Linked DNA regions of Homo sapiens. The protein of the gene in region 3 purifies or fractionates together with the protein of the main gene of each other region. This does not show direct contact. Each region holds a gene or a part of one and is shown on either strand. Other genes may lie near its edges.

The links.
Region 1: the proteins of HGH1 (region 3) and LPAR1 purify together in Homo sapiens (co-immunoprecipitation; one large-scale study listed by IntAct). This does not show direct contact.
Region 2: the proteins of HGH1 (region 3) and CIB2 purify together in Homo sapiens (co-immunoprecipitation; one large-scale study listed by IntAct). This does not show direct contact.
Region 4: the proteins of HGH1 (region 3) and ELSPBP1 purify together in Homo sapiens (co-immunoprecipitation; one large-scale study listed by IntAct). This does not show direct contact.
Region 5: the proteins of HGH1 (region 3) and EFNB2 purify together in Homo sapiens (co-immunoprecipitation; one large-scale study listed by IntAct). This does not show direct contact.
Region 6: the proteins of HGH1 (region 3) and CAPN10 purify together in Homo sapiens (co-immunoprecipitation; one large-scale study listed by IntAct). This does not show direct contact.
Region 7: the proteins of HGH1 (region 3) and SLK fractionate together in Homo sapiens (co-fractionation; one large-scale study listed by BioGRID). This does not show direct contact.

Annotation. Positions count from the first base shown.
Region 1 is NC_000009.12:110,965,374-110,969,369, reverse strand, and holds part of LPAR1 (lysophosphatidic acid receptor 1), read left to right. Parts: intron 1-3,996.
Region 2 is NC_000015.10:78,121,364-78,125,359, forward strand, and holds part of CIB2 (calcium and integrin-binding family member 2), read right to left. Parts: intron 2,377-3,996; coding exon 2,342-2,376; intron 1-2,341. UniProt on the Homo sapiens protein: Calcium- and integrin-binding protein that plays a role in intracellular calcium homeostasis. Acts as an auxiliary subunit of the sensory mechanoelectrical transduction (MET) channel in hair cells.
Region 3 is NC_000008.11:144,136,288-144,140,765, reverse strand, and holds the start of HGH1 (protein HGH1 homolog), read right to left. Parts: upstream 2,993-4,478; 5' UTR 2,931-2,992; coding exon 2,338-2,930; intron 2,260-2,337; coding exon 2,159-2,259; intron 2,052-2,158; coding exon 1,953-2,051; intron 1,758-1,952; coding exon 1,666-1,757; intron 1,578-1,665; coding exon 1,455-1,577; intron 1,379-1,454; coding exon 1,214-1,378; 3' UTR 1-1,213.
Region 4 is NC_000019.10:47,993,019-47,997,506, reverse strand, and holds the start of ELSPBP1 (epididymal sperm-binding protein 1 precursor), read right to left. Parts: upstream 2,876-4,488; 5' UTR 2,696-2,875; intron 1-2,695.
Region 5 is NC_000013.11:106,511,491-106,515,486, forward strand, and holds part of EFNB2 (ephrin-B2 isoform 1 precursor), read right to left. Parts: intron 1,323-3,996; coding exon 1,039-1,322; intron 1-1,038. UniProt on the Homo sapiens protein: Cell surface transmembrane ligand for Eph receptors, a family of receptor tyrosine kinases which are crucial for migration, repulsion and adhesion during neuronal, vascular and epithelial development.
Region 6 is NC_000002.12:240,593,134-240,597,129, reverse strand, and holds part of CAPN10 (calpain-10), read right to left. Parts: intron 3,225-3,996; coding exon 3,083-3,224; intron 2,588-3,082; coding exon 2,421-2,587; intron 2,107-2,420; coding exon 1,826-2,106; intron 812-1,825; coding exon 609-811; intron 450-608; coding exon 188-449; intron 1-187.
Region 7 is NC_000010.11:104,025,930-104,030,019, forward strand, and holds the end of SLK (STE20-like serine/threonine-protein kinase), read left to right. Parts: 3' UTR 1-3,304; downstream 3,305-4,090. UniProt on the Homo sapiens protein: Mediates apoptosis and actin stress fiber dissolution.

The DNA.
Region 1 (3,996 bases), on a different chromosome or scaffold from region 3:
TATGGAGGAAAAAGAAAGCAAGACGCAAAATAGTACTTATGGGAAGATACCATTAAAATTCTAAAACAAGACTGTGTATTTTTAGGGAGAAGTATATGGTACATTAATGGAAATGGATAATGAAAGTCCTAGAACATACATTCTTAACATAGTTATATTGCCCCAAGAGGACAAAAATTGGGTTTTGGGAGATGAAAAAAATCCCTCCAGAGCTTATACCTCTATCCAACAAAATCTTATTCCTTAGTATTTAGTTTTTTCTCATTAGAAAAAATTTAAATGTAATTAATTTTTCTCCTTAAGGATCACTAATGAGAAAAAAATATGGCCAAGAAACACTGGTTTCTTGAGGGAGGCACATAGGCTCACCAGTCACCCTGCTTCAATTTACTAATTACCTGAGCCTGAGGGGAAGGTATCCACCCTCTTAGTGCCTCTATTTCCTTACCCACGGAATGAGCATAGCATTAATGAAGCCAACCTGATAGGGTTATTTTAAGGCGGAAATGAAATAATTTCTATAAAGCTCAGAATAGTGCCTGGCACATATTCTGGGCACATATTGCCCAGTGCATATTAGCAAGCATTGTTATTATTGCTCAGCAAGCCTTGTGGCAGGGCTGGGGGATACAAGAATAAATAAGAGAAATAAGTTTTGCCCTGCCAGAGTTTACAGATATAGTGGGAGATACACAGATAAAACAAAAAGTTACAACGCTTTGTCACCCATGCAGGAATGCACAAATACAGGAAGTATGGGTGCTCTGGGAGGAAAGTGGAGACCCAAGAAAAGATTTAGAGGATCAGGGAAGGCTTCTTGAAGGAAGACCACTAGGCTGAGGACAAATTAATATGAGTTATTTTGGTAAAGGAGAAGAAAAAGCATAGGTGAATGTCAAGTGTCCCAAGGTATGTGTGTGTGTGAGAGAGAGAGAGAGAGAGGGAGCAAAGCATTTAGAATTTTGTTTTGGATGGTTGCACTACAGTGGGGCATGAGATTGTAAACAGTGATGTCCCTAGAGCCACCTATACCAACTCACAGAAGCAGATTGTTAAATTTTCAGGAATTTCGCGAGCCAATTGACTTCATGCCAGCAGCTTGAAATCAGCCACATGGAATAGTTATACTGCAGAAATCGGCAAGTGCTAGAATTAGCATAAATGGGTTAGGTTATAAAGTTGGAGATTTTACAGGGTCTTTCAAACCGTATTAATGAATTTAACATTGATCTTAAAAGAAGTCTTTGTTAGCTTAATGGTCCCAGCCTTTGAAATAGACCTGGGTTCAAGTTCTGACTTTCGATAATAGTTTTATTGAGCAAGTTTATTAATTAACCTTAACCAGGGTAGTTGCATTATTCTCACCGTATTTTGGGAATAGTGGCAGCCTCTGATGGTTGGGGAACTAAGCCCACGGGGAAGGAGTCAGCTATACACTGGGACATTAGGTCATAGAGATAGATAGCTTCTTCTGGAGAGATGCAGACCATTGGGTCACTTGGTTCCCAGGATCCTTTGGCCAATGATGGGCCTCCTAATTATATGTCAATTCCTCACATGTAATTTGTACAGTGAAATTTAGTCCAAGGCTGACTTGCCCTTGCCCCGAAGCTTCTACTGATGTCTTCTCTCTTATTATCAGTTTTGCCCAAGTTCAAAGAAGGTAAAAATAATTTAGATATAGCATCTTCTTAGGCAAGCATAATAAGCAGCTCACTCAGTCACCTTAGCCTGGTATTGTCTGGCACATCAACTTGCTTTCTTTTCCAGTGAATTCAGGGACCTTGTAAAGATAAATCCACATTCAAGTGTGAAAGGCCTGAAAATCCTTTTCTAAGGCCAAAACAACAATTTTTTAGAAAAACTTTTGGTTTTGTTTGTTACTCTATTCATTGGGTAACAAAGAGCATTTTTCTAATCAAGGCTGCCTAATACTACATATAAACGAATTAATATGAACAAATAGCTTGTGATTGTTTCAAACAATAATAGGGAAGAAAGCTTGCATTGTCACGCCTGCTGGGATTGCTGTTTAGTTAGTTGAAAGATATGCCTTGTTTTTTGAAGTGGGGCAAGTTTGTATTCTCTGCTTTACCCCTGCCTTGACTCTGAGACAGATTTTTGTTTTCTCATGCTGAGAGAGCACCTAGCTCTTACAAAGCTAGGTGATGAATACTAAGACGAAACTGGACTAGCAGCAGCAAGAAGATGCCGTGTTTGTAACCGATTTATAATTCTGCTGGTCCAGACACTGAAAAAGAGTTTTCTTATCCAAAGGAAACTCCTGGGATGTATTTGCAGACAGGAACCTGTTCATCATTAGGTTGAGTTAATGTGTTCGTATCCTGTGGATATTGGGGGCATGGGGATGGGGTAGGAAACCAAACAAACTTGCAGCTCTCCAGAGCCATTTTCTGTTTCTAGCACTGTGTTAAGCATTACCCTGTGCTTGATCAGGTTACTGTGGATAGAAGTTGGATTAAAAGTTTCATTTTCATTGTTCATGAAAGAGTCAATAGTTCAGTACCAGAGTGAGCAGTTTGGCTTCTCTTAAACCTAGGATTATATTAGAGGCCAGAATAGGTATCTGAAAACCTAAAAGATATTCAGGTCTCACACCTGTGATTCCAGTAAGGCAAGAGTCTTCTTTATCAGTATTTTTCATGGTGTATCATTCTGTCTCTCATTTGTTACATGACCATTTTGTTATTTTTTAATTTTCATTTTTATATTTATTTGAATTTAAATTATTTTATTCTAAAATATTTTACTTTAAGTTCTGGGATACATGTGCAGAACATGCAGGTTTGTTACATAGGTATACATGTGCCATGGTAGTTTGCTGTACCTATCAACCCATCATCTAGGTTGGTTTTTTTTTTTTTTTTCTTGAGATGGAGTCTCACTCTGTTGCCCAGGCTGGAGTGCAATGTCGTGATCTTGGCTCGCCACAACCTCTGCCTCCTGAGTTCAAGCGATTCTCCTGCCTCAGCCTCCTGAGTAGCTGGGACTACAGGCGTGTGCCACCATGCCTGGCTAATTTTTATATTTTTAGTAGAGATGGGGTTTCACTATGTTGGCCAGGCTGGTCTTGAACTCCTGACTTAGTGATCCGCCCACCTTGGCCTGCCAAAGTGCTGAGATTACAGGTGTGAGCCAGCATGCCCGGCCCATCATCTAGGTTTTAAGCCCGCATACAATAGGTATTTGTTCTAATGCTCTCCCTCCCCTTTTCCCCCACTCCCAGACAGGCCCTGGTGTGTGATGTTCCCCTCCCTGTGTCCATGTGTTCTCATTGTTCATCTCCCACTTATGAGTGAGAATATGTGGTACTTGGTTTTCTGTTCCTGTGTTAGTTTGCTGAGAATGATGGTTTTCAGCTTCATCCATGTCTCTACAAAAGATGTGAACTTATTCTTTTTTATGGCTGCATAGTATTCCATGGTGTATATGTGCCATATCTTCTTTATCCAGTCTGTCATTGATGGGCATCTGGGTTGGTTCCAAGTCTTTGCTATTGTAAATATAGTGCTACAATAAACATGCGTGTGCATGTGTCTTCATAGTAGAAATGATTTATAATCCTTCGGGTATATACCCAGTAATGGGATTGCTGGGTCAGATGGTATTTCTGGTTCTACATCCTTGAGGAATCACCACACTGTCTTCCACAAAGGTTGAACTAGTTCACATTCCCACCAACAGTGTAAAGGTGTTCCCATTTCTCCACATCCTCTTCAGCATCTGTTGTTTCCTGACTTTTTAATAATCATCATTCTAACTGGTGTGAGATGGTATCTCATTGTGGTTTTGATTTGCATTTCTCTAATGACCAGGAATAATGAGCTTTTTTTCATATGTTTGTTGGACACATAAATGTCTTCTTTTGAGAAGTATCCGTTCATATCCTTCACCCACATTTTGATGGGGTTGTTTTTTCTCTTAAATTTGTTTAAGTTCCTTGTAGATTCTGGATATTAGACCTTTGTCAGATGG
Region 2 (3,996 bases), on a different chromosome or scaffold from region 3:
GCCAGGGCTGTGGGGAGCCAGGACGCCTCTCCTCAAGCCCTCTCACCTGCCTGGAGCCCCTCATTTTCCAAGGGGCCAGGGATACCCCTGATATGGTTTGGCTGTGTCCCTACCCAAATCTCATCTTGAATTGTAGTTCCCATAATCCCTACGTGTCATGGGAGGGACCTGGTGGGAGGTAATTGAATCATGGGGGCAGTTACCCCGAGGCTGTTCTCATGATAGTGAGTTCTCACGAGATCTGATGGTTTTATAAGGGGCTTCTCCCCCTTTGCCCAGCACTTCTCTTTCCTGCCGCCATGTGAGGAAGGATGTGTTTGCCTCCCCTTCTGCCATGATTGTAAGTTTCCTGAGGCCTCCCCAGCCATGTGGAGCCATGAATCAATTAAACCTCTTTCCTTTATAAATTACCCAGTCTCAGGCAGTTCTTTATAGCAGCATGAGAATGGACTAAAACAACCACCAAAGGCCCATCATATTGGATCGGATTCCCGGACTGGCCTTCAAGCTCCTCTCTCCTCTTCCCCACACAGGCAATCTTGCTGCTGTCAATGAGACCACGGGAGGATGGGGGTGGGAGTGGGAGCAGGAGAAGCTGGCCTGTGTCTCACCTCTGCTGCTCCCCAGCCTGGAATGTTCTCCCTCAGCCAATCCTACCTGTCTTTCACCCACACACTCTTCATATGGTCACTGGTGGCTAACAGGTGCCATGCTCCCTGTTAGTCCTGCCTGATCACAAGTCTGGTGGGGAGCTGGGCCCCTGGGTCCAGGAACCCAAGGAGCCCCTAACAGGCTGTTAGAGCAGCTGGGATAGCACTAGGGTGGCAGGGTGTTGGGGGTGCTTATAAAGGAGATGATTCTGGAGTTGGGTCTGGAAGGATGCATAGCAATGCTGTGGGCAGAGGAGAGGCGAAGGACACTCCAGGGAGTGGAGATAGCCAGTGCAAAGGCCGAGGCAAGGGGCTTTTGTTGCCAGAATGAAAATGGCCGTGGGCCTCAGAAGACAGGCAGCTTGGGCTTGGCATCTACAAAGGTAGGGAACCCGAAGCTCCCTGTGAGGCTCAAATGAGGCTCCATGCCAAGAACTCTGAAAGGTAAAAGGTGCCACAAGAATGCCAGGGGTGACAGCTTTGTTATTCCAATACCGAGAGCCATCCTGTCGAAATGGGGACCTCACCCCTGACATCTCTCAAGCTACAGGGCAAATCCCACTTATCAAACACTATACCCCAGTGTTGCTGCCTCTCGGCAATGCTATGAGGGTAGGTTTCACTATCCCTATTATACAGAAGAAAACTGAGGCTCAGGGAAGGTCAAATGGTTGCCCAAGGCCACAGATGCCAGGTCTACTGATGCCAGGCCTGGAGGCTTTGCCCCTTGCTCAGACTCTCTAAGGTGGTGGAAGTGGGGTATCCCCTGCCCATGCAGGTGACAGGTTGGAATAGCAGCCTGGGTAGAGAGGAAAGCCGAGAGGCACTGCCTGAATGAGCAGAATGGTTAGGGCAGTGACAAGCTGCAGCACAGCTCTCTTGGGAAGCTGCAATGGGCTCTGGTCCCAGCCTGACCATCGATCTCCAGGGCAAGTGATCCTGGGACTTTGCTGGCTTTTAGTGCCACCCAGGCAGAGGGGCCTAGTGAGGCCCGTGGGGCAGTTTTCTTGGTATTCAGTGATTCCTGCTCACCCACTGGTCCTGGGGTTCTGAGGCTGCCGATCCCCTTTATCTTTCCCATCCAGGTCCACCCCCACCCCCATCAACACCAAGGAGAAGGGCTGTCCTGGGAAGAAGCAGAGCCCTGATGAATAGCTCAGGGGTGGTGGCCATGCCCTCAACTTTTAGACGTCCTAGGAGTGGAAGAACATCAAAGCTAGAGCCAAAGGGCCCTTAGGGACCCCTGGTCTAACAGACAGGGACTCCCTGCTATACCAGGACCCAGGATGCAGTGAAATAGCAAGGGACCTGGAGTCAGAGGCTGGGTCTTGAGTCCCTGGCTCTGTGACTTTAGCCAAGTTGCTAAGCTCCATCTGTCAAATGGGGATAAATGGATTCTCTTGTTACAAGGTCACAATGAGGATTAAATAAGAATGTGCCGGAAACTACCCACCTGAAAGCTCATAGTAAGTAGATGTTCATTCCCCAGCAGGAGGATCTGGGCCCTGGGAGGAGTGGGAAGCTCTAACTCCATCCTAGCCCAGTGGCCGAGTGGGGACCTGAATGTGGCTCCTGATACATGCTGATGCTCTGCCTCAGCCCCAGGAGCACAGCCAGCCCATGTGGGGTGCCCCAGCCTCACCCCGGCCCCAGTCCCAGTCCCAACAGGGTGAACGAGAAGCCACACTTACTTGAGGATGTCCTTCTTATTGAAGAAGGTGCAGTCCTGTTGAGGGAAAACACACAACACACAGTCAGTGTGCGGCTCCCAGACTTTCTTCCTCAGAGGCCTCGATGCCACAGGGCTCACAGGGGATAGCTCCGGACTGGGGACAGAAGAGTCACTACTATCCCTTTCCACCTTGCCCTCACCCACTGGGGACAGCTGGCTCTAGTAGGTATAGAAAATGCCTCCCAAAACCTTTATCCATCCTGGGCTAGGCCTAAGGAGCTTAGTGCATGGTGGGGGGCTGTAGCATGCTTTAGGGTACACATGTAGGAGGAAGATGAATGCTCACAGGTATGCGTGGCTGATTTGAGTGCCAGTGGGATACACTGGGGGATGACAGGGAGGTGGCTGGGAGACAACTCCGAATGAGGACCCACAGGGCCACCTCGTGTAGCTGCATGGGGTGCCATCCTCACTGTAGCCCTGAGCATGGTGCTAGGGGGGTTGTGCAGTCCCAGGCTCAGAGACTGAGAGTTCCAGGCACATAGACTGGGGAAGCATCAGTATATACTTGGTGTCTGAAGCCAGAAAGGGATGAGGTCACCCAGAGAAGGGAGTGAAGAGGCCAGGGAGATATGGGAGGGAGAAACGTGGGCAGGGGGAACCAGGTAGCATCTGGGGTAGAGGTGAGGGTAGGGGCTGCTGGGGATCCCCAGGTAAGCATTACTCCAGGTGGGGGGCAGCACTTGGCTCCTAGGGCCATCCAGATGACAAACTCATCTCGGAGGGGTCCTGTCTTTGTTTAGATGAACTGCCTCTATCCACAGCTTGGCCTGCCCAAGGTGAGTATCAACCACTGGGAGTCAGTGACAATGGCCACTATGCCAGCCCTTGGTGAAAAGTATAGAGGTGAAGAGGACCCAGCACTTTGTAAAATGCCCAACCGTAAAGGGCTTTTGTGCACCTCCCCTGCTGTTTAGCTCCTCCGCCTTTGTCCACTGTTACAGCATGAAGCAAGAAGGCCTCCTAGGTCTGCAGAGCCCAGAGCCCATAGGGCCTCCTGGGGCCATAAGCTGACCAGAGCCAGCTCTGATGAGGAGTGAATGGCTGAAACTCAGGCCTGCAAACAGCCAGGCTTGCCCTGAATGAGACCTGAAGCCGCTGGACATCAGGGCAATTGGATTGCGTGTTAAGAGGCCCAAAGAGAGGACGCCTGCAGGATGCACACAACATCTGGGGTTTCCACTGGGTGCCTTCGGGAGAGCTGAAAAGGGGAGAGCTGGTGGGAATTTCCAGGCCCCATTTGGCCCAACAAGTCTGTCCTTCTAAGCTGCTGCTCCCTGGGAGTTAGACTAAGGATCCATGCTGGCTTCTTGGAAACACGAGGGGTTCTCCTGGGGGTCTCAGCTTTGCTTTTGACAGTGGTTCCTCTGTAGGAGCCCAGAAAGGCTCAGGCTGGGGAAGCAGTGCCCCCTGCTCCTCACCCAACACAGACAGAAAACTCCCTACTTAGCAGGCCTCAGGCACAGACAGGCTGGAGACACAGTGGGCTGATTTATCAGCAAACTCCAGAAACATGGTGCAGAATGTGGACTTCCCTCCACCCCAGGGCCGTTTCCATGGTCTAAGGTGCCCAGTGAGAAGGGCCAGGGCTCTCCCACCTAGCCTGGAGGAGGC
Region 3 (4,478 bases):
CAGGTGGGGGCTCTGGCCAGGGGAAAACATGGTCCACACATGCCTGCATGAGTGGCAGAGCTTTAATGGGGGCAGGTGAGAGGAGATCCTGGAGGCGGGAGACGCCCGGCACCCAAGCCACAGCAGGAGACCATAGGGGACGCTCCAGTTTTAGGGTGTGGAGTGAGGCATTGTGAATTGCCAAGAAGACAAGCTAAGCTCCTTCACCAGGGCTTGACGGGCCTGGGAGGGCCCATCAGTGAGCAGGGGCCAGCCCTCAGGATCCCAATGCAAGAGGTGGCAGTGAGGTCAGGTCAGCTCAGGAAGGGAAGTGTGGCAAGAGCCACCATGACAGCCTGTGGGGCTTGGCAGCCACATAACTGGCAGGTGAGGGATGCACATAGGTCCAGGGGAGAAGCACGTAAGGCGCCTGGGCCTATAGTGGGCTCTACCACAGGGGCAGAGGGTGGCTGGGGGAGAAGCTTGGGCAGGGACTAGGCTGCAGGCACATCTGGAGGCTCTTGGCAGAGGTAAGAAGGCCAGGGAGGAGTGGCCCAGGCTCAAGGAAGCTGACCAGGGAGACGGCCTAGCTAGAGAGGCCAATGAGAGCACCCACTCAATCTGAGACTGGGAAACAGGAAGACTTAGGGAGCTGACAAGGGTTGAGGGCAGGGTCCTGGAGCATAGGTCAAGCAGGGAGGCACAGTCCTAGAAAGACCCCAGGATCTACGTATGGCTGGGTCAGCCCTTTGAGGCCAGGTCTCAGGGAACAGGGAGCTGAGAGCTGCAGGGAGTGAGGCTGACAAAGCAGCACTTGTACCTATGCGCCCACCTCTGCCCAGACTCTGCAGTGCCCTGGGGATTGGGAGGCTTCAGCTGGCTCCTTGGGGCTTGCAGTGGTTTTCTGTCCAGTCCCCACGCCGTGCCCAGGAAGAGTCTTCTCATGGCTCCCTGGCCATCCGCCTGCCACCTCCACCTTCTGCACAGGCAGCCGAGTCACGGTGCCTACCTCACAGTACTGCTCTGCACAACCTTCATTCTTGCTGGTAGCAACACTGCACAGGGCTGGAAAGTGCCTCCAATCCTTACTGGAGCCTAAGCGTAGCTCTGCTTCTCAGAAGAGCACAGTCTCTGAACAAGGGGACCCAGGGGGCCTGCAGACAGCTGCAGGAAGGCCTGGTCTGAGAAAGCCTGGCAAAGGGGACCCTGGAGCTGGTGTCCGGCTGCAGGGGCCTCAGGTGGGTGTGGCCCTCTCCACCCATGGCTCTGGGGCCAGCTCCCGCTCCAACTGCTCCTGCTCCCTGCAATCCAGCTGCTGCAGCTGCTGCTCCACATCCTCAGGCACCTGCACCTCCAGCAGGTTTTCCATGCCACGTTCAGGCTCGTCCCCAATAAGCACCTGCCAGACGGGAAGCAGGTGAGCAGCTGGCCAGCTACAGACACCCCTTCCCCAGCCTCTCCAACCCTGCACCAACCTGGATGAGCTTCTCACAAGCCGTCCGCACGTCGGGCTCCGGCTCCCAGCTGTGCAGCTCTCGAAGGATCAGGTAGGCTCCCTGGTCCCGCACCTGCTGCCGACCTGGTGCTGTGGCTGTCAGCTGAGGAGGTGGAAGAGGTTACCCAGATGTCAGCATGCTCATGTGTGTGTGTTGGGGTGGTGCTTATTGCAGCAGGGCTCCTGCTCACCAGCATGATGGCTTCAACAAGCATCTTGCGGATGTCTGCATCAGGTTCTCGCTGCTTGTCTGGTGGCAGGTACTGCAAGTCGACAGGCAGCCCTAGGGGTGAGTGTGTGGGAGCCACTGTGTCCCTGGGCTGGGCAGCTGAGCCAGGCTCTGCCTGTGTAAGTCCCACCTGTGCTCAGCAACTCACTGCTGCAAAGTTTCAGGAGCCTGTGGCCTGGACACCTCTCTCTCCCTCCACTGGCCTCCCTCCTCTCCGGCCAACTCTGAGGCTCCACACTAGCCACTCACGTTCCATCTCTTCCTCGGAGAAATCCTCAGGCCCAGCCAAGGGCAGGAGCAAAAAGGGGAGAATGTCCACCTCAGGTCCAAGCAACCACTCGTGATGTCCTGAGGGATGGTGAGGGTGGGGAGACGGGAATGGAAACTGGTCCAGAGCAGCCCCGGAGTCCAGTCCCCACACCTGGCAACGCACCCCCGCCACACCCACCACTCACGGTGCTCGAAGCAGCAATTCCGCAGCGTCCCCACCACCCCGCCCCTGCGTACAGAGGAGTCGGGGTACTGGGTAAGGGGCAGCAGCCGCTGGACCACGCACCTGTTGGGAGGTGTCACTTAGGGCCGTCCCCCCTAACTTCCGTCCCCTCCCCGCCCGCGCGGGCGCCCTGGGCTTCACCTGTCGGGGTCCAGTAGGAAGGCCCGCGCCGCAGGGCGTTGGCTGAGGTTGGAGAGCAGCGGCGCTAGGTAGTGCAGGGGCGCGCGGGCGTTGTAGCCGGGCGTGCACAGCGCGCGCACCAGCCGCTCCAGGCCCGAGTCTGCCGGCTCCGCGGCCGCCAGCGCCGCCATGAGCGCTGCACACGGCGCCGGCTCGCGACTGAGGTTGGCTAGCGCGGCGGCCGCCTCCTCGGCCCAGGGCCACTGCGGGTCCAACGCGCGGCCCATCAGGCGCGCTGGCAGCCCGGGGTCGGCCGCCAGCAATGTCTCGTGCAGGCCGGGGTCGGCGGCCAAGTTCACGAGCGCGCGGGCGGCGTCCCGGGCCGGGGCAGAGGCCGGCGCCAGCTCCATCAGCGCCTGCAGCAGCGCCGCCTGCCCCGCCAACAGCGCGCGGCCGGGTCCGCAGCCAGTCAGCGCCAGCACGTGCCGCACCGCCGCCGCCTGCAGGTCCGCCCGCGCGCCCGGCGCCAGGAAGGGCAGCAGCTTCACCACCTCTGCCTCCGGGCTTGCCTCCGGCCCTCCCGAGGCGCCAGCGCCAGCCCCGGCCTCCCCCATGTCGAGCGACACTCTGCTGCCACCCGACCGGTGCCAGCGGTCCGCTTAGGGGTCCGCTGTGTGGCCCGCAACCCCGCCCACCAGAGGAGCGAAAGCCGCCCTGGCCAATCCGAGGCTGCGCACTGGGCTCAAGGGGCGGGACCGGCGTGCGGAGGGGAGGGGCCAGGCCGCGCGCGGGGAGTTATGGGTCTCGGCGTCTGGCCGGAAGCTGCGGAGGTTGGAGACTGAGCGCTGTGATGTCCCGAGCCATGGGGACCGAGGCCCGGCGCGATTTGGCCGCCTGCCGCGTCCACACTCGCTGGAAGCGTCCATGTAGTCTCGGCTAGGTCGGCCAGTGCTTCCCACTGGGCGCTGGCCACGCCGAACCTGGTCAGCCGGCCCTGGCTTCTCGTGGGCCCTGAGGGTCTGAGGCCCGCGCCCCGGCTCCTCGACTAGGCTGTCGGGTCAGAGAAGGGCTGAATGGGGGAGTGGCCACGGGCCTCTCGGAAGGAAGGCCTGCTCTTGTCCAGGCTGGCACGGCCACCGAGAAGCTCAGGCCGTCCAGGGACAGGACAACACAGGGCCCCAGTGGGGACCTGAGGAGGCAGCTTTGGAGAGGCCTCTGGGCATCTCTGAGCTGGTAGCTTTGGGGCATTTGTCAGGACGTCTTCAGTCGCAAGTGACAAACCCAACTCAAACTGACTTGCACGAAGAGAAAATTTGTAAATGGAGGTTTGGAGGGAGCCAGCTTCCGGCACTGCTTTATCCAGGAGCTCTCTGGAGCCTTGTACTGTCTACCCTACCATTGCTCTCCCTCTCTGCTGCCCTGCTGCTCTGTGGCTCCATATCATTTCCACCTGCCACTGGCCGATTTTCTCAGAGCAGTTGGGAAAGAAAGACACTGGGACCTCCCAGTTCCATGGTCGTGGCAGAAGAGTTTCTCTGTCCCAGTATTGGAGTCTGCCCCAGAAAAGGACTCCAGTTCTTCACGTGTCCTCCACTGTGGGCGGAGCAGCAACCTTCTAGAGACACACAGACTGGGAGGAAGGGAGGGCAAAAGAAGGGCATTCCCTCACTCCAGCATTTTTTGGGCACCAGCCATCTGCCAAGCTGGTAGCTCAGGACACGGAACCAAACAACTTTGGTGGCCATTCTGGCCTCAGGGTCTTTGCACTTGCTGTCTCTTCTGCCTGGAATGCTCTTTTCTCAGCTGTACACAAGGCTGGCAACTTCTAATTATTTGTCAGAGCTATCTTCCCTGGGCAACTTACAGAGACTCAGCCCACCCGCCACCCATGACTGCTTGGTTTCTGTCTGCCTCCTTCAAGATAGCAGTACTTAGGCCAGGTGTGGTAGCTCATGCCTATAATCCCAGCGTTTTGGGAGGCCAAGGCAGGTAGATCACCTGAGGTCAGCAGTTTGAGACCAGCCTGGCCAACATGGTGAAACCCCTCTCTACTAAAAAAAATACAAAAGGTAACCGGGGGTGGTGGCACACTCCTCTAGTCCCGCCTACTCGAGAGGCTGAAGCAGGAGAATTGCTTGAACCTGGGAGGAAGAAGTTGCATT
Region 4 (4,488 bases), on a different chromosome or scaffold from region 3:
TATACATGTATATGCACATACATAATGTGTATATACATATACGTGCACATGCCTGTATACATTATAGATGTGTATATATGTATACAGGCATGTGTAATATACACACATCATATGTGCACATATACAGGTATATGCATGCACATATGCTCACATGAAAACATGCAGAGTTAAAATGGTTTTTAAAAAAGATAGAACACCCTGAGTAAAGCAATAGGAGGCAGTTTAAAATCACAAAATGAAAAATCTGCAACAATGAGATGGCTGTCTTAGGAATGGATTAATTTTATGAGGTAGTTATTGACTTACCAAATTTATTGAACATCTATAGAGCAAAGCGCTGTGCCGGGGCCTCTTGGTGTTGGCATTCCAATTCCACTGGCATGCCAGTAATTAAAAACCTGTGTGGATGTTTCAGTGGTGCCTAGCAGAGTGACATTTAATAAGGTACTTCACAGCTTACCCCTCTATAAAATGGGGATGCTAATAAACAGTTCTACTTCATAGAGTTGTTGGGAGGATTGAATTAGATGAAAGATACAAAATGCTTAAGACAATGCGTGCTATAGAGATAACTCACAATAAATGTTGGCCATTAATGATGACGATGATGATGATGATAACATTCATTCACCATGCTAGACCGGCAGTAATTAATTAATTAAGCAAACATTTTGAGAATGTTCTAATTCTCTTCTTTTACTTTTGTTATTTATTGGCTTTCAAACTTTCCTGAAAATATTACCTTCTGAGAAATTTTTTCTCTGCTTAATGATACTCTTCATTGTTAATATTCCCTCATCCATCCATCCATCAACCATCCCTTTACCAACTCTTCTTTCATCATCCATCCATCCACCCATCCACCCATGTATCCTTCCACCCATTCTTACATCCATTCCTCCATCTATCCATCTTTTCATCTATCTTCTTCCATCATCCATACATCCATCCATCAATTCATCCACCCATTCATCCTTCCACCCATTCTTCCATCTGTCTATCAATTCTCCCATCCTTTTGCCCATCTTTCACCAGCCATCTATCTATCCACTCATCTGTCCATTCATTTATCCTTCTATTCATCCATTATTCATTGAATCCATCCTCTTATCATCCATCCATCAATCATTCATCAAATAAGTATTTAAGAAACCCACCATCCATAAGAAACTGTGTCAAGTACCAAGAGGAACCATACATGATTTCTGCCTTCAACAATCAGAGATAAATCGTTTCATCCATCCTTCAGTTTATTCATCCACTTCTCATCCATCCTTCCATCCATCCATTCTTTCACTGTTCATCCATTCTTCTATCCACCCATCCTTCCTTTCATTCTTTAATCTTCCTTCAATCCACCACCCATCCAATGAGTATTCAAGAACCCTATCATCTATAAGGAAATGTGGTGGGTACCAAGAGGAACCAGATATGATAGCTGTCTTCAAACAGCTATAGATAAGACATTGGCACCAATATCTACCACCCAACATGGAAAATAATGGCAGATACAACTGGTAGTATTAAGGCCCTGATAGGGTGCCCAAGAGGCAGCTTAGCCCACAGCCTCTGCCCTCTCGTTCTCTTAAGCCAAAATAATTTCACAGTGGAGCGGTGAGAAGATAATAGCACCCAACCAACCAGGGTTCAAATCCTACCTCTCCCATGTTTCAACTGGGTGGCCTTGGGAAGGTCATTTCACCTCTCTGAACTCCAAGTCAGTATTCCTATCTGTTTAGTGGAGATAAAACCTAAACTATAGAAGCCATTGTGAATAATTACAGGCACACATGGGGCTGTAAAGTCACTGAAGTATAGTGTACCTTCAAAATAATGAGTCCTTCTGCTTCTCAGCAGCAAATGACCCCAGATCTGAAACAAAACTTCAGTGTAAGCCTTCCCTCCACCTCTAGGCGCACACACACACCTCTTCTATTACATATTTAGGCTGCCTTTGGAGGGAGAAGCAACAGGATCTCAGTAAGCTCTTTTTGAATCTCAACTTTCTTTTTCCTAAAATAGGGAGAGTAAGCCTTACCTTGGAGAAATGGTCCAAACATTGACAGAACCATGAAGATTTTAATCCACTACCAAGAATTTAATAAGTAATTCACCCAGTCTCTTAACAGGTAACTTGTTCCCTTTTCTTCAGTTTCTTCCCTAAGCTTGGGATTCAGGCAACCTTCCTTAGCATTACATCATTCATAGAATCTGGTTTAACCCATTTCTTTGAGTTTATTAACAGAGAAAGGACCTCACCCACAAGACCACCTTCCCTACTTTCTCTGGCTGTCCCCTTCCAGAACCAATATGGCAGCCACCAGCTACTTCTGGTTCTTGAGCACTTGAAATGGGAAAGTTCAAATTGTTCTATGTTGTAAGTGTAAGATACCTATTGATTCTGAAGACAAAGTATAGGGAAAAAATGTAAAGTATCTCATTAATAATTATTTGTATTCATTATGTGTTGAAATGATAATCGTTTAGATATACATGGATTCCACAGAACATGTTATTAAAATAAATTGCACTCTTCTTAGTTTTTTAAAGTGCTTCTGCTATAAAACTTACAATGATTTATGTGGCTCGTATTATATTTCTAGTGCACCATGATGCTCTAGACCTTCCTTCTTTGCTATGGGGGCCCTAAGACCCCACTTGTCACACCCTCCCAAGTTTCCGGGTCAAAATGTACCTTTGAGAGAGTTCTTCTGGGCCCTGGCTCTCTCCACGATCTCTCTTTAAGGTTCTGCTCCCAAGAGCTCTGGATTATCTGGGGATTGGTTGAATGGCTTTGGCCCCAGCCTGTCTGTAGGACACAAAGGCAGCTTCTCAAAGGAGGGTTCTTCATCAGTGGTTACTGTCAGAAGGCAGTCTGGATGAGATCAGCTGTGGTTAATTTATGATGTCTGGAGATAAGCCCATGCATATCCACGAGGCCCATAAAATTCAGTCAAGTGTACACAGAAGGGGCCTTGCGGGGGCTGGGGTCAGGGACAAGAATATCAATGAACAGAGGAGGGAACGTTCCCAGAAATTCAGCTATGAGGAGCTGGAGAGGTTTCAGCTGAACAATGAAAAAGCCCTACTATTTTCTTTTCTTTTCTTTCTTTCTTTTTTTTTTTAGATAGAATTTTGCTCTGTTGCCCAGGCTGGAGTGCAATGGTATGATCTTGGCTTACCACAACCTCCACCTCCCGGGTTCAAGCCTTTCTCCTGCCTCAGCCTCCCAAGTAGCTGGGACCACAGACACATGCCACCACACCCAGCTAATTTTTGTATTTTTTAGGAGAGACAGGGTTTCACCAGGTTGGCCAGGCTAGTGTCAAATTCCTGGCCTCAGGTGATCTACCCACCTTGGCCTCCTAAAGTGCTGGGATTACAGGCATGAGCCACTGCACCCAGTCCACATTAACCTGCTAAGGGATTTTTGGATCTCGTATGGCTAATAATAAAGGGAAACTGATTGAAGAAATACTTGCAGAATGGGAAACTGATGACATGCAATGCAGTGAAGAGTGACATGAAACAAAGATGTTAAAGGGGAGAATGGGTGGCTCCGCAAATGTACAATGTCTTAGCACACTTGGTCTTCATAAAGTATCAATAATAATAGCAAAAAGGCAGTGTGCCAGAGACCACCCATTATGTTGTAGAATATAATCAAGATCTGTAAAAGATGTTCAAACAAGAAGGAAAGAGGTGCCAGGCACAGTGGCTCATGCCTGTAATCCCAGCACTTTGGGAGGCCGAGGCCGGTGGATCACCTGAGGTCAGGAATTCAAGACCAGCCTGGCCAACATGGTGAAACCCCATCTCTGCTGGGGTCTGCTGGCACACCCCAGCACACCCCAAAAATAAAATTTTTGTATTTTTGTAAAAATACAAAAATTAGCTGGGTCTGCTGGCACACGCCTCTGGTCCCAGCTGCTTGGGAGGCTGAGGCAGGAGAATCGCTTGAACTCAGGAGGTGGAGGTTTCAGTGAGCCAAGATCACGCTACCGCACTCCAGCCTGGGAAACAGAGTGAGACTCCATGTAAAAAAAAAAAAAAAAGAAAAGAAAGAAAAAAAAAGAAAAGAAAAAAGAAATGTTAGAAATAAGTGAAGGCAACAGTCATTTCCAAAAACTAGGATTCCTCAAAGGTATTTTTAAAGTCTTGGATAGGCTTTTATTTCATAAGAGTTTCTAATTTGATAGTTGCTGACATTTTTGACAGTTTAGTTGGGGGGAGGGCTTTCTTTTGACACTTTTTTCCAAAGGAGATTCCATCTTACTGAGAAAAAAAAATGGAGATGAAAAGATAGCCCGTTTTCCACAATTTTTTTCTGAGACAGGGTCTCACTCTGTTGCCCAGGCTAGAGTGCAGTGGTGCGATGATAGCTCCTGGCAGCCTCAAACTCCTGGGCTCAAACGATCCTCCTACCTCAACCTCCCAAAGTGCTGGGACAACAGGCACATGCCACCATGCTCGGCTAATTCGTCAATT
Region 5 (3,996 bases), on a different chromosome or scaffold from region 3:
AAATAACAATAAAGTGCGGCTCATAGGTTGAGATGCAAGAGTTTCAGTTTGATCACCAAGAGTCTCCTACCTAAAGTTTTAGAGTCCACCTTGGGGCAAATAATAAACCAGTGGCAGATAGCAGTTCCCTAATAAACTGAAGTCTATGGTAACCAAGCCACTGGAAAATTCAACCCAATTAATTATGAGTATAATTTTAAACCAAAGAAATTAAGAAAAAAGACTTCATTGCTTGAATGACGCGAACAGCTGTCTGAGTCACCTAGACTTTAACACCACCTGGGGCCCTGGGAATGACGCTGACGAGAGATCTGCACATAGTAGGCGTGGGCTCCAAATGTGCTCATCAGCTGACTTCACATCCTCACAAGTCAGCCTCAGATATGACCCAAGGGATACGTACCATCTCTTCTTGAAACAGCGTGTCAAATTATATATATGTATGCAAAAAAGAGTAATGTACTAAGCAAACCAAGTTTCGTCTTTTTCTTCTGAATCTGGTTTTAATGTGACCTGTCATCCCCATCTTTCGAATTTATGAGCTCCATCTTCTCTAGACTGTTAACTTCTTGAGGAAAACATGCTATTTTACCACCTTTCACTGCTGAATCCCTAGCCCTTAAGCACAGTCTCTGGCACAGAATAAATACGAAATGAATGAGTGAATGAATGGATGGATGGGTGAAGAGAAAAGGCAATGCACAAGATTTACCTATCAAAATCCACCAATGGTCCTTAAAAATGGTTTTGTCAGTAGAGATGCTGAATATATTCATATAATACATTTATTTCAATACTATTAAGAATTCTAGTGTTTTTTTTTCTCTTTGGGTATGTATACTTAATGAATACTGGTAGCACAGGGTCCCAAATTCAATGAAGTTTTCTTTGAAAAAAAAAAAGGGGGGGGGGACAATTTTTCCACATAGATTTTCATCAAATTATTTGTCACAATAATTTTAAGGAAACAAAAAATTGATACAAACCTATATAGCTTATCTTAATTTCTATAAAATAAATGAATAAAATTATACTTACATATAATGTAATAATCTTTGTTCTTCTGAAATTCTAGACCCCAGAGGTTAGGGCTGAATTCTTGAAACTTGATGGTGAATTTGATATCTTGGTCTGGTTTGGCACAGTTGAGGAGAGGGGTATTTTCCTTCTTAATAGTGCATCTGTCTGCTTGGTCTTTATCAACCATATAAACTTTATAATATTCATACTGGCCAACAGTTTTAGAGTCCACTTTGGGGCAAATAATATCCAATTTGTCTCCTATCTGTGGGTATAGTACCAGTCCTTGTCCAGGTAGAAATCTAAAAGCATAAGAAAAAAAAGCCATTGAGTTGATAAAAATTAACAGTATTAATGACAGTTACAAGATAGCCAGGCAATGCCCATAATCCCAAACTACACATTTTCAGATTCACACTTTAATTTATCAAAAGTCTCTTACTTCAGATCAATATGGGATGAATGTATTTTGGAATTAAGCTTTAAAAGAAAAAGGAAAGACAGAAAGAAACCACTTTCCTTACTCTAAGCTGTAGGATCAGGCTACCTGCTGACATTTCTTTACCACCCCCTCGCTTGTAATATTTCAGTACTCCTTTGTGTAACTTTACCATAACTCTTCCTCCGTGGTGAGTCAGATCTCCCACATGTTTGTTATTTTTTAACCATTGGCAGCTTTAGTTTATTGGGCATGCCACAGAGAAAGCTCGTCAATTGGAGGGAACAGTGGATCCACTAATACTTTGTTGTCCTGTTAGTTTCCCTGTGCTGTTGATGTTAATTAACAGACAAGTTTCATCAAGAATGTTTCAAATTACTTATCATAATTAGTCAGTCACTGATCAAACAATGGGTTTTTTATTACACTGAACAAAAGCAATGTCTTACAAATGCGTAAAAGATAACCAGAAATAATTAGTTGTGGTATTGATTCAGCTGCAAAATGAAGTGTCCTCTACTTGCAAGGACAACTACTGTCCCTGCCCTATAAATCTTTTTTTTTCTTCCCTTGAGATGTATTTGCTCCAATTAATTCTCAGAAGCAAATCTTTAGAACTAAGACTACTGATACAATATCCCCTTAATGCTTATAGCTGAAAGCCTCCCTCCTCCCTTTCCTCTTTCTTGGTAGCCATGTTCCTGAATGATCTTTCTTAATGGGGAGTTTCTCTGAAAAACTGAAACAAGAACTTCCTAATGAACATCCTTCTACAAGTGCTAACACTAACAACACACTTAGAAATCTCAGCTCGTTCGTAAGCAGCCAAGCCTGCAGGCTCATTAAAATATTAAAGCCTAAGAACAAAGAATCGCCTCTGAATCCTTCCAATCCAACCCTTTCTTTAACCAGAGACGCCCACCAGCCATGATGACTACAGGGTCATAATTCACTAAGAGATAAAGCAAGGATGATAGGGCACCCCCAATTTCAAACCCATACCAAGGGAATAGTTTATGATTTATGCTAATGAATGGTATTAATTTTCTGAAAAGTGCATGAGTGTGGTTATGAAGCAGCACAAAACATAACAGAAATCATACTATGGATTCATATTAAAAACCCACACTCTTTATTGGGAAGAAAAATGTATGTGGCTGTTACCTCTTTCTTGGGAATGTGTTACTGTACAACCCCCAAAAGAGAAGGATGGTCCCTTTTTTTTTAACTGAGCTCCTTTAGCAAGGATATATGACATTCATTCATTCAAAAAAACTTTCTGTGAAACAGAACTCAAAACGAATTTTTATAACAATGATATATTTAAAACAACCATGTGTGTACTGTTGAAGAATTCTCTAGAACTTTTGACAAATGCAAATCACAGTGGGAGCCTCTCTGTGGTATCCCCTCAACCTTGTGAATGGCAATGTGTTCTCTGTAGACAATTTCATCTTCTTTATGGACAAAACACAATTCAGTTTCTCAAGTAACAGACTGAATCAGAATGTTTGGGATGAGGCTAATTTCTTTATCTCCCCCAGCCCCTCCAACACACACACAGTAATTCTGATGTGCTGCTGAGGTTAAAAACCTCAGGCAAGATGCCGGGCAGTAAGTACAAACTAAATTCCATAAACATTAAATTGATCATCTTCCTGACATTTCCTTTTTCTCCTGTCTTATTCCTTGACCTTTTTAGGACATCTTTAAGGTTTACAAACACCAGGAGTCAATTCCTGCCTAGGGTTTCTCATACACTCCAAACCTTTTCTATCCTTAATCTGCTCCTTTTGTAGCCTGCACAGACAGCACTATATAAGGGTTAGCTACTATTAGGGGAAGTATTCCTAAATTACAAGCCCTGGGGGCATCCCAGGCTTCAGAGATTAGGATCCTTAACCAAACCAGATGTACCCATTTCCTCAACCATTCATTCAGCTCTTTTAAGAAAATGCATTACACCCCCTCCCAAGCTGTACATCTCTGCAAATCTTAAAACTCTCCCACATTACACCCTATGTCTCAAGTTTGGCTCACTAAGCTCCTTCTTCATTCAAAATGCTCCCAAGATCCTGTTTCCTTCATGAGGATTTTTTTTTTCCTGCTTAACTAAAGATTCACAGGAGGTTTCCTCCCAGGCCATGCAAGTCACTCCTCTTGACTCTCATCACTCACCGTCTCAGCGACAGGTCTTGCTGGTGCTGATGCGGTGAGGTCGAGAACATGGGACGCAGGGGTCGGTGTGGCTTTGGGGATCTCTGTGTTTGAGGCCATATTTTCAGAAGGCGTAAGTCATATAAATCATTTAATGAGCCTTTTAATTCATTTTACAAACACGCCAGGCCTTCCTTGATGTAAAGTTTTCATTCAGTGTGTACTGTCCAACTTTGTTAAAAATCTATAATGGTCAGTGACGGCAATCCGGGGGATGCTTATCAAAGCGGAAGTGTGGTGGGGAGGCTCACATTTCAATATGCATATTAGATACGCTTGTAAAAAGTAAATCGTGACAAAGCTCACTATTCCTGATGATT
Region 6 (3,996 bases), on a different chromosome or scaffold from region 3:
TTCGGCCTTGCCTCTGAGAGGTTGGAGATGGGAGAGGGCCCTGTGCGGGTTCTAGGCAGCGCCTCGAAGGGCAGGGGGAGCCCAAGTGACTGAGCCCAGAGCCCTCTGTTGGGACAATGGAGGCCAAGATGCAAATTCTCTGAGGGCCCCTTCTGCTCCCCCTCCCTCCCTGGGGCAAGGAGCTTGCCTGGAAGATATGGAAGCCGATGGGGTGGAACTCGGTGTCACTGGGCCGGCAGTGCTGATGCAGAGTGATGCGGACGCAGCGGGGGCCAGGGCCCTCGGGGACCGAGAAGGGGAAGCAGGGGTTGGTGGGGTATGAGGCAAAGTTCCTGCTGCCCCCCGCCGTCTGGCCGACTCTCCAAGAACCCCGTAGCTGCACGGTCCCCCACTCCCCCGCAGGCAGGGCTGCCCCGGGGGTGGTGTTCTTGGCCACTGCCCTGATGGCGCTGCCAAGAAGACAAACATGGGAGGGCGCTGGCAGCAGGTTCCCGGTGGCCTCAGTTCCCACATGGACACCTGCCAACCACAGAGGGAAAGTGCCCAAATCCTGCCTTGGAAGGGCCTGTGGCCTCGGAGAGCCAGCAGCACTGCGCGGTTCCTCTCACCTAAGGGAGACTCGCCCGGTAGAGAAGACTCGGAGCAGGAACTCCCCTGGCGCGTCCTTCAGGAAGGTGCTGGGGACAGCCAGGTAGTAGCCCGGTGAGAGCTCACAACGCAGGTGGACCTCCCGGTCGTATGCATGGCACGCGGTGCCAGCCACGGGGGGCATGGACAGGACCCTAGGCAGATTGACCCGCCGCTTCTCTACCTGTGAGCACGTGCAGGAGGCTCAGTGTGGAGGAGCGGCCGGGGTCAGACGCCCTGGCCTTGACCTCCCTGCTGCAAGCACAAGGGCCTCTGGAGTTGACAGATGAAAGCGCCAAGGCCTGTCAGCACCCTCCACCCTCTCTCAGGGACCAGCTAGAGATGCCCACCAATCCCGGGCTTCACTTGGCCCTGGCGCCAGTATCTGTCCCAGACACGAGCCTGCAAGTCCTCCTTGTAGCTGGGCCCACAAAGGCACCGTGGCCCAGGCAACCTGGGGGCTGCTGGACAGTGGGCCTTCCAGCAACTTCTTTTGCAAGAGGAAAGGAACATCATGTGGGCCACATCCATGAAGGGACAGGGAACAGTGTGGTGCCAAGTGTCACACCCTGTCAAGACACACAAGATGAAAACCCAGCCCCTGAGCGAGCAGCCGGCATATCCTCGACCCACACTCAGGCCCTTTGCCCTCAGGCGCCCCCATCTGTTCTTCCTGGAAACAACACACTTTGTGAACCAGTGGTTGAGCCTGGGACTGCCTGGGCCTCAGAGCAATCCCATGAGATCCGTGTCAGGACCCCGTCTTGCAGGGGAAGAGACTGAGGGAGGCAGGGAGAGGATGTGTGCCAGGTCACACAGCAAGCTGCAGAGCTGGGACTGGCCCTGACAGGTCCTCAGCCGCTGGCTCTACCTCCTTGCCTCAGAAAGGCACGGCGCTGCCAGGAGCCCCCCGGGTCCAGGCCCCTCCTGCGGGTCCTGCCCTGGCTGCAGACTCTGTTGCTTTCCTTTGGCCAATGAGGCACACGGCAAGGCAGAAAGACCTGCAGTCTCAGGTCAGAGCCGGGTCTGGGAGCACCAGCAGACGTCAACCCCGTGCAACAGCCCAAGGAGGGGGGAGACTGGTGGGGCCCGTGGCAGAGTCACATGTGTCCCGGCAGAGCCAGTCCTAGAACCCAGACCTCCATGGGCCTCCACACCACCTGCTGAACCGAGCGTGAGCCAGACGGGGCTGAGTTACCTTCCAGAGGTGCAGACCCACAGCCTGGTAGTGCTTGCCCGGGATGCTCGCTGGGCTCCACGAAGTATGACTGTCACCCACCAGTGCCCGGGCCCGGCCTGCCCAGTCCGCCGCGTGCAGCCTGGATCTCTGCAGGACGGCAATGTACACCTCACTCGGTTCTGAGACCCGCAGCCAGAATTTGGGGTTGCTGGGAAAGCCGCTGTTGTTCCGGCAGCCTCCTGCTGACTGGCCCTTGACCCAGGCCCCAGGCAGCGCCCGCGTATGGCAGAGCAGCCTCTCTAGTGAGAAAACACCAGGCATCAGCTGTGGGACACGGCTCCTCGCTGGCCTCCCGCCATGGTGGCCTCATGAACCCTGGCAGGGTCTAAGCAGCAGCTACGGCCACAGACAGAGCCAGCCCCTCCCACAAGCCCACCCTCCTCCCAGCTCCTGGGACAGAATCATCACCCTCCTCCCGGCTCCTGGGACAGAATCATCTCTCCACGCTGAAGAGAACCAAACTGGGCCTGGGCAGGGGGAACCCAGGCACCTGCCCAGCCTCCTCACTTCGGCAGGCAGAGCACGTGCCCAGCACAGCCCCTCGGGGCACTACCTGTGTAGAGGCTCTGCAGGTGGCCGGCCTCCGTGACCGGGTAGCCAACGGTGAGCTCGTCAAACTCCCTGAGGAACTCCTCCTCCTCCACCCAGAACTCCCCTTCCTGGAGCTGGGACAGGAGCTCAGATGCTACCGCTGCATCTACCTGGCTCCACCCTTCACCCCTGGAAGAAACCTCATCTCAGCAGAAGCCCCTCCCGAGAACTGGTAGTGTCAACTTGCCGGCAGGCTGGGGGGAAGCCTGGAGGGGACCCAGAGAGCCCTGAGTTCCTGCCAGCAACCCCGTGCCCCAGCTCTGCAGCCCCTCCCACACCCGAAGCAGCTCTGCAGCACAGGGCCTTCTGGGCAGCGGCCACCCTGGAGCCCTCTCTTTTCCCAGAGGAACTTCACGCCTCTGGATGCGTCTTCCCAGGACTGCTGCCCGAGCCCGTGATGATGTCTGCCCTATTGAAACCCCAGGCCCAATGGCCACCTTGGTCCCAGGCCTCACAAGGATTGCCTGGAGCCAAGACAAGCATGGTGTCACGAGAGCAGGGACTCAGGGGCCTTGCTGGAGACAGCCAAGTACAGTCCTGACAGCTGAAGGTGACCAGGACACAGGCCAGACTGGCACTGGGCCCCCCTCCCGACAGCAGCATGGTCCAGGCCCCAGCACTCACCCCTCTCTCCAGAGCCCCTGCCAGCACCGCCGGCCCCAGGGGTTCTGGATCCGCAGCAGCAGGATGCACTGGCCCGCCTGACCCTGGAGCTCCCGCAGGTCCGAGACAATGAAGGCATGGAACTCCCCCAGCTCCCGGGCACCTGCATGAGGAATGGCGCAGGCACAGGCAGGAAGGGCACCATGGAGTCCCAAACTGACAAGGACACACAGGCCTCTGCCTCCTCCTCTGGAGATGCTCCAGCCCACCCCACTATGGCTACACGGGAGACCCCAGATCCCCATGGACCACGAGAGCTCCTTTCTTAGCAGCTGTGACCCATCAGCTCAGGAGCATCTCCAGGAGCAAGCACACGGGGCCTGACTCGGCTGCCATCCGGGTCTGGTGCTGGGTAAGTCATCCCCTTCTCTAGGCCTCAGTCATCGTCCGTACCCATCTGTGCACGATGCCTGGCACAGCACCAGTTCTCAAACATGCTGCACAGATGCATCTGCAACTGCCAGAAATCTAGAGAGTGTTTCTCTTGGCAAAGCCTGCTAGAGGTAGGACATTCAGATAGTGCCCTGGCTAGAAGCCCACTGGAGGCATGGAGGCCCAGGGGGGCAACAGCTCCACCTGGCCAGAGACCTTGAGACAGATGGGCATAGAAAAGAAAGAGCCAAACAGAGAGGAAGGCCACATCTGTGGCGGGGCAACGGTCTAGAGAGGAGGGTCTCCTGGAAGGACTTCAGTCTCGCCCACGCCGCGGCCCCTTGCCACCTCAGCAGGCTCCAATGCACCTCCAGTCAGTGCCAGCTGCCATCTCTCTCTGCCTGGGGGCTTCCTCTAAAGCCTGAAGTGCTAGGACTTAGCGCTACCCCACCCTGGAGCACCCAAAACCAACAGCTCCCCGAGCTAATGCCCACCAGACCAGC
Region 7 (4,090 bases), on a different chromosome or scaffold from region 3:
GTAGCATCTTGGTGACTAAGGTGACTTTGTATATTCATCTTAAAAATTATGTTCTTTAGACACTGCTACCTGAAAACTGTTGGAGAAATAATGTTTAAAGTTATTTAAGAAAAACTGTTACATCACTAAGTATTAATAAATTCTTCTTACCTGACGTAACTTCTCAATGCCTAAATTCTGTAGTTGAAGCTCTGCTGCAGAGAGTTGGGATAATTTTCTTTTGGTGGATCAGCTCTCATAAAAAAGCTATGATTTGCTCAAATATGCTGTTGACTCAGTAAATGAATATATTTTTTTCTTTAAATAGGAACAACCTCTTTTAAAAGAGAAAAATTATTTCAGTGATTTGTCAAAACGAATTACCTCTTTTGGCATGAGCTAATAATTGAGGGTGCTAATTTTCTTAAGATAGTGCCTAAAACACTAAATTTCAGTCAAGTCGTAAGTAGGATTTTCTTTTTGATCAACAGGGACAAAAACATCTTTAGAATTAAAAACATGGTTGTTTTGGAATTTTTGCTTCTCTTACCGTTTGATAGAAATTTTCATCCTAAAATACATGTACAAAGTTTGGAAAGATGAAAAAAAGAGGTAGCTTTTAGATTGCAAACTGGAAATGTAAAACTCATGAAATTTAAGCAATATAGGTTTAGCTATCTGTGTTTATTTTCTAAAATAATACCTGAGCTGGTTAAATGATTTCTCTCCATCTTAGCTAATTCTGTTTAAAACTCTGTCAGAGGCCTGCAGGCTGTGAGTTATATTTATAAATATATCTTCAGAAATTAATCTTAAAAGAGGCATTAGTTCAGAATACTTTTTTAAAAGTTTAAATTAAATATTTAGGCACGTCAGGAATTACTTTTCCTTATTTTGAAATGAGGCTACTTATGTCTTGGTTTTATTTTGTTCCATGTTTAAATCATTCACTTTGATTTGAGTGGGAAAAGCCTGAAGCCTTTATCATGTGGTTGCTGGTGTGTGTAATTATTAATGAAATGTTCACTCCTAGTCCCTTATGAGGCTTAGAATTTCAACCACGTGTCAGGTCAGACAGTATTATAAACTGTACTTTGCTGTCTGAGACAGCACATTTGTGAATGATGCTTGCTGCCTGCCATTTTCAACCTATTCTCTCTTAAGAGTGCTAGGTACCAAATTGTGAAAGTTTGTTTTCAGTTATATTACTTTTGAGGCTGGTGAAAAATTTAAATGTAACTTTGTGGGAACACTGATTCATATTTAGAAAATGTAAATGTCTGTAGCACTTTCTTGCAGTTAATTTGAAAACTTTGGATGCTGAACCTTGTTTGTCAGTGATTTAGATGATTTAAAAATGCATGTGTGATTTGAATTTTATAATTGTTTTGACAAGCATAATTTACTTGGACAACTTCGTAGGTAGCCTTAACTTCTGGCCAAGTTTGTTTTTTATATAAATATATATACATATATACATATTATGTATGGTTGTAAATTCATACACTTATCACATGAATGTGTTACTGTATACAAAACTCTTAATGCTTTATTCTCAAATGCTGGGTTGAAAAATGTTTTGAAAGCCTTTTAAAATATATATCTTTATAAAGTAATATTCAGGATGATGATAAAAATTGTTTATATTGTTATGATAAAAATGACAGTATAATGTTGCCCAGTGTATTTAATGATTTATTTGAAGAGGGATTGGGAAGGAACGTCTTCATACCACTTTCTCCTTTGAAATTTTCAGTTTATTGACTTTTAAAAAATGAATACCTCAGGCAGTAGACATTTTTTTTCTAGTATCATTTAATTGATACCCTGTGCGCTAAATAGTGTGTGGTGCCTGATTAATTTGGTCTGAATATTTGATTCTTTCTGTTCCTTTCAACTTGACATTCAGATTATTGACTCAAGGAGAGAGGCTCAGAGTGGAATGGTTGGCGCTGTGGGTAAGGTTGGATCTCCCTTAAAACTGCCTTTTGGATTCAGTGTTTGTGCTTGAGTTCGCTTTCAAATATGACCATAATCGTGTGGGTGCAAGACTGTACAGTGATACATATGTAGAGGTAAAGCATTCATTTTAATACTTAAAGTTATATAAATCTTTTCAAAAAGTGTTTTGTTATAAAATACGCTGTTTGTACCCATACCAGCCCACCTCTTCTGAGGCCCTGTATTCAAATAGATGATAGTGATCTATCTTTCCTGCATGAAGTGTAGGTGGCGAGTGGGCGAGGGGCGCAGACTTCTTTGAAATCGAAGGGTACAGTCAAATCTACTGCTGATTTGGTTGTTTTGTTGCTGTGGCAGAATATGCCATGAAACACATACAGACTTCTCCGAACGTGCACCCTCATCAGCCACCTCCTCCCCTCTTTCCCTGAGTGCTGTGAACACAGCAGACCTGCACACTTCTGCAGATCCAGCTCCTACAGCTTGGGGCACTAGGCTGCCTTTCCTAGTCCTGTCAACAACCATACAGTGCGAATTGCTGAATTAGCTGCTATTCTATGTGGAGTCACATTAAGCTTTTTCTTATCTTTTTCTATGGGGAAGCTATAGGGTGGGTAAGGAAAAAATGTTGAATGCTTTTACTTTGCTGAAAATATTAGAACTCTCTTGTGACAGGATACAGCAAATTATAATTAAATATAAATTACCAGAACCAGAGCTACCTCTAAGTCATACTTCCTCAAGCACAAAGCTCTCAGGCATATGAGACCCACCTTAATGAAGGGTCTCTGATTTCTTGAGCATCAGCGAGTTTCAGAAGTGACTATTTTTTTGTACTCTTCTAGTTTCCTTGTAACTATACACTTTTTCCCATTCCACACTGTGCTTAAATGACAAAGACTCTTCTGAGAAGCCAAATTCTGTCCAAGTATTAACTAGAGATATTGTTGATTAAAGAAAATCTAGAACTGAAGTGAAAGAAGAGAGTTCCAGTTCTAATAGTCTTTTGATTAACAATTCTTTTCTGAGAAATGATTTTTATAAGAAATGGGGTGATTCTTTAAATGCTTTTCTTAAGTTGAAGGCACAACAGTTAATGGCTGTATTGTTGCTATTCCGTTGCTGACATGTTTTTGATAAAGCTTTAACATTCCTGCTACTAATTTTGGCGGAGAGTGTTTGCCAGGTTTCAATGTGGGCTGCAGCTTTTTGTGCTCCTTCTCTGGTTTGCAGTGTAATGAGTTCATAAGCTAAATTTTCAGAAAGAATTTTGTTTAAGATTATGCCTCTTATCTACTTGAGAGCAACATGTCTTTTCAATCATGGGATTGACACATGAAAAATAAAGTTATTTCTTAATCAATTTTGGGAAGCAGTCTTTTATTGAGAATCTTTGAAACTGGAGTGTCCTGCCTGAGAACACTTTGCAGTTGTTGGTCCTAGTTATATTGTAAAACTTGCAGTCCCCGCAGGTCTTCTGACCCTTCCAGAGTTAGTATTCCTAGCTGTGTGTAGTCCACAGCATACACGCAAACACACACACACTCAAATGTAGTTTTTAGTGATAACTTGCTGGGGGTTGTCTTTCAGAATGCAAACCCCTCCTTTGGGAGGTGCTTAAAATATTTCTATCAGCCTATGTATATATGTGTATGTTTTTAATTTCTTTTCCTCTTGGGATGGATGATTTTTCTCACCAAGCATTTCACAAATCATATGACCTCACTTCTGCAAAAATAGTCTCTTCGTCATTGATAACGTTCATGCAAGATTCAGTAGACGCTAGGCAGCATCACTCGGCACGTGTCCAGCTGGAGGGAGGCATGGAGTGTCATTTTCTAATCTGGGAGCGTTGTGCACTATTGAGCTCATTCTTGACTTAAAAAAAAAAAATGAAACAAAAGAGGCTAACATCCATTGCCATCCAGCTGAGGACATAACCTCATATCTGCCCATCCTCTTTCTGAGTTTTGTCCAGAGAAGGTAGTAAGTTTGGACTTGTACCCTATTTTACTTGAGCTAAAACTTGATGAAGACTTTGGGTATCTTAGGTAGATCTAGTAACAAGGAAAAAACTCCTATGTCTTGATTAATCAAGATAAGGATCACTATTAAAGGGGATATAATACTTGAACCCCTAAAGCTACTT